Linked DNA regions of Homo sapiens. The protein of the gene in region 1 interacts with the protein of each later gene in a pairwise test. Each region holds a gene or a part of one and is shown in the gene's direction. Other genes may lie near its edges.

The links.
Region 2: the proteins of CHAF1B (region 1) and PLEKHH1 interact in a two-hybrid assay, tested with the Homo sapiens proteins (one large-scale study listed by BioGRID and IntAct).

Annotation. Positions count from the first base shown.
Region 1 is NC_000021.9:36,412,663-36,416,436, forward strand, and holds part of CHAF1B (chromatin assembly factor 1 subunit B), read left to right. Parts: intron 1-221; coding exon 222-653; intron 654-2,632; coding exon 2,633-2,727; intron 2,728-3,612; coding exon 3,613-3,704; 3' UTR 3,705-3,774. UniProt on the Homo sapiens protein: Acts as a component of the histone chaperone complex chromatin assembly factor 1 (CAF-1), which assembles histone octamers onto DNA during replication and repair.
Region 2 is NC_000014.9:67,587,609-67,590,294, forward strand, and holds the end of PLEKHH1 (pleckstrin homology domain-containing family H member 1), read left to right. Parts: 3' UTR 1-2,004; downstream 2,005-2,686. Other genes in the region: PIGH (phosphatidylinositol N-acetylglucosaminyltransferase subunit H), read right to left, coding at 2,537-2,564.

The DNA of each region.
Region 1 (3,774 bases):
ATTCAAGTGAAAATTGCTAGTAGCACAGATAGGTTGCAGCGACTTAGCAAATCGCGATGAAACTGCATGAGTGAGTCGCTATCACACACTCTTTTCCAGTTGTATCTTTTCCCTGGTTTTTGCCTTCAAACAAGCTTGTGATTTTGCTCGAACTTCCCTCTTCTAAGTAGATGTGAGAGTGTTGGTAAGGTCTGTAACTTTTCCCTGTTTTGGGGACGAAGGTCCAGCGATGGTGCCTTCCTGGCCATTTCTTCCACGGACGGTTACTGCTCATTTGTGACATTTGAGAAAGATGAACTTGGAATTCCTTTGAAAGAGAAGCCAGTTTTGAACATGAGAACTCCTGATACAGCAAAGAAAACCAAGAGTCAGACACATCGAGGGTCTTCGCCAGGACCCAGACCGGTAGAGGGAACCCCTGCCAGCAGAACCCAAGACCCCAGCAGCCCCGGCACGACTCCCCCTCAGGCCAGACAGGCCCCAGCCCCAACAGTCATCAGGGACCCTCCCTCCATCACTCCTGCTGTCAAAAGCCCCTTGCCGGGGCCTTCGGAGGAGAAGACCCTGCAGCCCAGTAGTCAAAACACAAAAGCCCACCCATCCCGGAGGGTCACTCTGAACACACTGCAAGCCTGGAGCAAGACAACACCCCGGTAAGAACTTGTTGGAACAAGATGTCATTGCAAAATGAAACACAAAATGCAGACAGAACGCTCCCACCCTGCTGCAGGTGAAATTTCAGGCGGTGAATGCTTCATGCCAGTAGGTTGCCAGAGAGATTCTTAACTTCAAATCCGAGAGTGTCATTTCTTGCATATAGGCCTCTGTTTGTTCCTCCAGTTTCTGCCTGTCAGATAAAGCCCAGGCTCCTATGCACACACACAGACTGTGATTTGGCTGCAGCCTGTCATCCAGGACTGTGGCCACTCTCTCTCCTGAGTCTGTGGCCTTCATCTCCGGCCTAGTCCTGAATGTCATCTTCCCAGAGCACTCTCTGCCCTTTGAGGCCTCTGTCCTTCCCTTCTCTGGGGAAGCCCTGGACACCTCTTCCTCTTGGTGATGCCAGGAGTCTCCTGAAAGACCCATTTCAATGTACCCTCTCTGTTTGCAGTCTTTGTGGCCCTTCAGCCTTTCCCTTGTCACCACACATCAGATTCCATAGCAGGTGCTTTGATGCTCCAGTTCCCCTGCTGGTTGTGAGCCCCCAAGGACAGGAAGCAGGTCCCATTTTTTATTTATGCTGTTCTGCCCAGGATGTAGGCAATTCCAGGAGTGTCTTCCTGAGACTGCGTTTGATGTCTCCAGCAGCCTGGTCGGTGAGAAACGGAGGTCCTGATCTGATAACAAATAATCCCCAGGAGGTGCAGAGTCGTTTCTTCCCTGCTTACATCAGTGTGGCTGGCACGCACGCCTGTGTCTGCCACTTCTACTGGATACAGAGCCACTTAGCACATCCTTCTGCCGTCAGGCAGCACAGCCTCCTGTTTCCATTCTTCCCCTGCAGCTGATGTCCAGTTACCCCTCTGATCCTGTATAGTTCCTTCTCCACCAAGCCCTCTGCCTCCCAACCTTCCCATAAACTGAGTCACGAGGAGAGCTGGGAAGGGGGATGCAGAGGGGAGTGGTGGGGATGGTGAGCTGGACAGAAGCGCCCTGTGCCTCTCAGCCTCTCCTGCGCCAATAGGTCTTCTTTGGCAAGTTCATAATATGTGTATGGGTTGCTGGCTTTAACGCCCTCTTAAAATCTCTCATTTCTTTCTGCAGATTAGCAATGTATTTTACAATTTTTCTGTTTGTTTTTATGTGACGGAAGGTATTCCTTGAACTATTTTTGGTATTAAATTATTTTTCCCCTCTTGATTTCTTCTGAATTATTTACCAAGCTTCTTGAAGATGTAATCTTTTGCAAACAAGAATAGTTGTTGAAAATTAAGACTCTGGGTTTTTATTTATTTATTTATTCATTTGAGACAGGGTCTTGCTCTGTTGCCCGGGCTGGAGTGCGATGGCATGCTCTCTGCTCACTGCAACCTCCGCCTTCTGGGTTCAAGTGATTCTCCTACCTCAGCCTCTCAGGTAGCTGGGATTACAGGCATGCGCCACCATGCCTGGCTGACTTTTTGCATTTTTAGTAGAGACGAGGTTTTGCCATGTTGGTCAAGCTGGTCGAAAACTCCTGACCTCAAGTGATCTGCCCGCCTCAGCCCGCCAAAGTGCTGGGATTACAGGTGCGAACCATCTTGCCCGGCCCAACGCTCTGGATTTTAAAAAAGTATTACCTGTGTTTCGACGCTTTCTATATATAGAAACCATATCTGACTGCCTTTTACAGCAGCCAGCAGAGTGTTCACAAGACCGTCGGTAATGAACAGAACACAGGTTTTGAAACTTTTCGATGACTGGTTATGGTTTAAGTTGACTGTTATAAATGTGATGGTTTAACTTAATACATGAATGTAATCCTCAGTTATTAAACAAGTGGGCACATCTTACTATTTAATGCCTTGAACCAGAAGTTCAGCTGAAAATTTAAGTATTTCCTTTGGTAGTTTTGAAGGTTGGTATCATACATAAACAATTCCTGTGATACTAATGAGCCATCACCCCTCTACTTTTTTTTTTTTAAATCAAGGAGAATAAACTTAACACCCTTAAAGACGGACACTCCACCAAGTTCTGTACCAACCAGTGTGATTTCCACCCCTTCTACAGAAGAAATTCAGTCAGGTAAGTAATATTGTTACTGGTTTAATATAATGAAAGGTAGAGTATCTTTTCTTTTGTTCTTTTGGAAATTAATGCCGCCTAATTTTAAGTCAGTTCTGAGACAGCAGGGATGCATCTTATTGGAACCATTGTTTAAACCCGCCGGCTGCCTGTTTACGCCTCAGCAGGGGGCACCTGGCCAGTGAGAGCATCCTGGTGAGCCAGGGAGTGGGTTCAGCAGGAGATTGTCTAGCTCAGGTTTCTCCACCTGATGACTGCTGACCTTGTGGGCCAGGCAATTCTTTGTTGTGGAGGACTGTCCTGTGTATTATGCGATGTTTAACAGCATCCCCGGCTGCTACTTCTTGCCCATGACATTCTTTTTTTTTTTTTCTTTTTTTTGAGATGCAGTCTTGCTCTGTCGCCCAGGCTGGAATGCAGTGGCACGATTTCGGCTCACTGCAGCCTCCACCTCCCACGTTCAAGCAATTCTCCTGCCTCGGCCTCCCGAGTAGCCGGGACTACAGGCGTGCGCCATCACACCCGGGTAATTTTTGTATTTTTAGTAGAGTCGGGGGTTTCACCACGTTGGCCAGGCTGGTCTTGAACTCCTGGCCTCAAATGATCCACCCGCCTCAGCCTCCCAAAGTGCTGCGATTACAGGCGTGAGCCACCGCGCCCAGCTTGCCCATGACATTCAAAAATGCCACTAGACATTGCCCACTGTCCCTTGAGAGGCAAAATCGCCCCTGGTTGAGAGCCACTCTATAGAACTTCCATTATATCAGTATAGGATCTTGCCAGGCAGCTCAGTTCCGTGTCTTGGCTCTGTATTCTGTAAATGTCAGCCCTTGACTTCCAGAATTCTTCATTTACTTGCCAACCTTATGTTTGTTAATGTTGCAGAGACGCCTGGAGACGCTCAGGGCAGTCCCCCAGAGCTAAAGCGGCCCAGACTCGATGAAAACAAAGGAGGCACGGAAAGTCTGGACCCTTGATGGGACCTCGGCTTCTGCTCGAAGCCTACCAGGCTCCCGGTGTGTGCAGGGAGACGGTAAAGCTGGAGGT
Region 2 (2,686 bases), on another chromosome or scaffold:
GGACACAGTGTCACTATGTCACCCAGTCCACAGGGTTCAAGCAATTCTCCTGCCTCAGCCTTCGGAGTGGCTGGGATTACAGGTGTGCGCCACCATGCCCGGCTAATTTTTGTATTTTTAGTAGAGACGGGGTTTCACCATGTTGGCCAGGCTGGTCTCGAACTCCTGACCTCAGGTGATCTGCCCACTTTGGCCTCCCAAAGTGCTGGGATTACAGGCATGAGCCATCGCCCAGCCCAGAAGCTAATTTTTTAATATTGTATATGGTCTTATTTATACTTGAAGTTTTGTGAACGTCGCTAAACAGGATAGGACTAAAATTTCCAATTCTCCTACACTCTGTCAGAAGCCTAGAACTCACTAAACTGGGCTGCCTTTCCCAAATGGGAAAGGTGCTGACAGAGTTGGAGAAAAAAGAATAGACTCATTTTTCCCCATTATTGGTATGTAGGCATTGGTACAGCCCCTTCTGGGGCAGTCTTTGCAGGATAACATGCTATACCTGCTAAGATTCAAGCTGTTTTCCTCACACTGGACTTTAGGCCAAACCCAGTACCACGCAATGTGCAAGCAAGGGCAGGAGGTAGGTCCAATCTGACCCCTCCCTGTCTCATTTTAATGACTGGACAGCGCTCGGTGAAGGCTGTGTTCACTGTAGTGGGCCATCATTTGTTTCCTTCTTCTTGTAAAAGACCAAGCAAATGCACTCTGCTTTTTGCTGCTGTAAGACCACCAAAAATGAGTCAGAAACACAGAAGACTATTTCAGGCATGTGGGCCTGGATATGCTCCTTGAGACTTCTGGCAAACTTCTGCTGGGAATTAGTTTGAGGGTGAGGGTACATATGTGACATTTGCCCTAGCCTAAGAGTAGCAGGTAAAAAAAAGTTTCTTTCATCTTTTGCCTTACTGATAATACCATAATCCCCCTCAATTCAGACCTTCTGATTGAGTGCAGAGGAGACTAGACAGTCTCCTCTAGACAGGTTGTAGACACACCCTCCCCTAACAAAAACAAAACGAAAGAGTTCATACTCTGATTTTCCAACATCTAGGAAACTGAGTTTTATTTCCTAGCTCTAAGGCAGCCTTACTATATGTCAGTAAAGTGCTGAAAACTGTATATTTAGCAGTAGCACCCAAAACCAAGCCTTTAACCCCAACAATGTGTGTATCTTTTGCACAGCAAAAACTGCGAGGCCAGAACTAGTTTATCTGAACACCTCAGCTGCTGTAAGCTTCTCCTCTCTCACCCCGTAAACTGACAAGCATGATGAAAAAAGAAGCACATCCAAGTTTCTGCCTCTTTTAAATGTACTTGACTTTGCAAGGCAAGTAGTTTTACAGCCATTTCTGTTCACACTTTTCACCCCACAACTTGGGGATCTAGCTGAGACATTTCTACCTCGAACAAGTCACATGTACCACAGGTTCCTGAATAATTCCTGCAGGGCTGGTGACAGACATAACAGCTCTGGTTTTATAATATCTTGGGTATCTCTAAGGCCAATAAGGATAACATTATCTACCCAGAGAGTTTAGAAGAAAAGTAGGAGTCCAAAGGAAGAGTAAACAAGAATGGAGCTGTGTTCACACTGAATTTGGGGTCAATCTATTTCCCCCACCCTCTCTCCTCCCCAACCCTTCAGGAACCCTTTAGTTTATTAATCTTATACAGAAGAAACTAACTTAGAAACAAAGGATTCAATATTTGCTTATTTATTCTTTGTTAACATGAGAGTCCCATGTCTGAAAACCAAAGTCCAATTTCTGTCTGGCCTTTTGTCTCATCCTTCTTGGCAAAAGTAGCTTTTGAACTGATATAAAAAAAAATGCTGAGTAACAGAAAAGTATTAATGTGCTTGACACCATGACTGAAATACTATGATCTTGTTTGTCAATAAAAAGCAGCTATCTGTGAACCAGGTAACTGTGTGTTTTGGAAGATCTGTTTATTAACAGTAAATAAATAAGCCCTGTACAGAACACAGGCACTAGGTTGACAGACTCGTCTTTTGTAGGACATTTCTTCCTGCTAACCAGTACTGAAGGGCTTGTTTTTTTCGTAACTTTACACAAGGGGTACTATTGGAAAATATAGCTTTCTCAAGACATCTGATGTCAGTTTCCCATTGTTTTGCTTCACAAACATCAACAAAGTAAACCTGAACATGCTTAGCAATTTCCGAAAGTGTTCTTTGCTGACATTACTTTTGACATACTGTGTCAAAATTCTTAAGGTCTCCCCTCCTTTGGTAAAGTAGGCAAAACCTTACAAGGAAAACACTATAATACACGGAAATATACTGAGTTAGATTTCCAGTCACCTGCTCTATGGCTCTAAGATGCACTACATCCATAATGGTTCCTAGGACTGTGTCCACCTGATGGTTTGGAGTACGGAAAACCAGCCCCTATGGCTTAAGAGTCATCTCCCATGGAAGACAATGCTGGCCTTCTGAACGCTGGGGCTCATGGGCTTGTTGATGTGGCTTTCTGGTGTGCCAGGATCTCCTGGCAGCTCCTGTATACTTCAATCAAGCAGTCCAGCCGGGGCTTGGCACTCTGAATTCCAAAGGGGAGAAATGCGGAGTCAAGGTGAGAATATAAGGGAGTGCAGTGGTGCTGCATCCACTTGCAAATTTTTTTTTTTTTTTTTTTTTGAGACAGAGTTTTGCTCTGTTGCC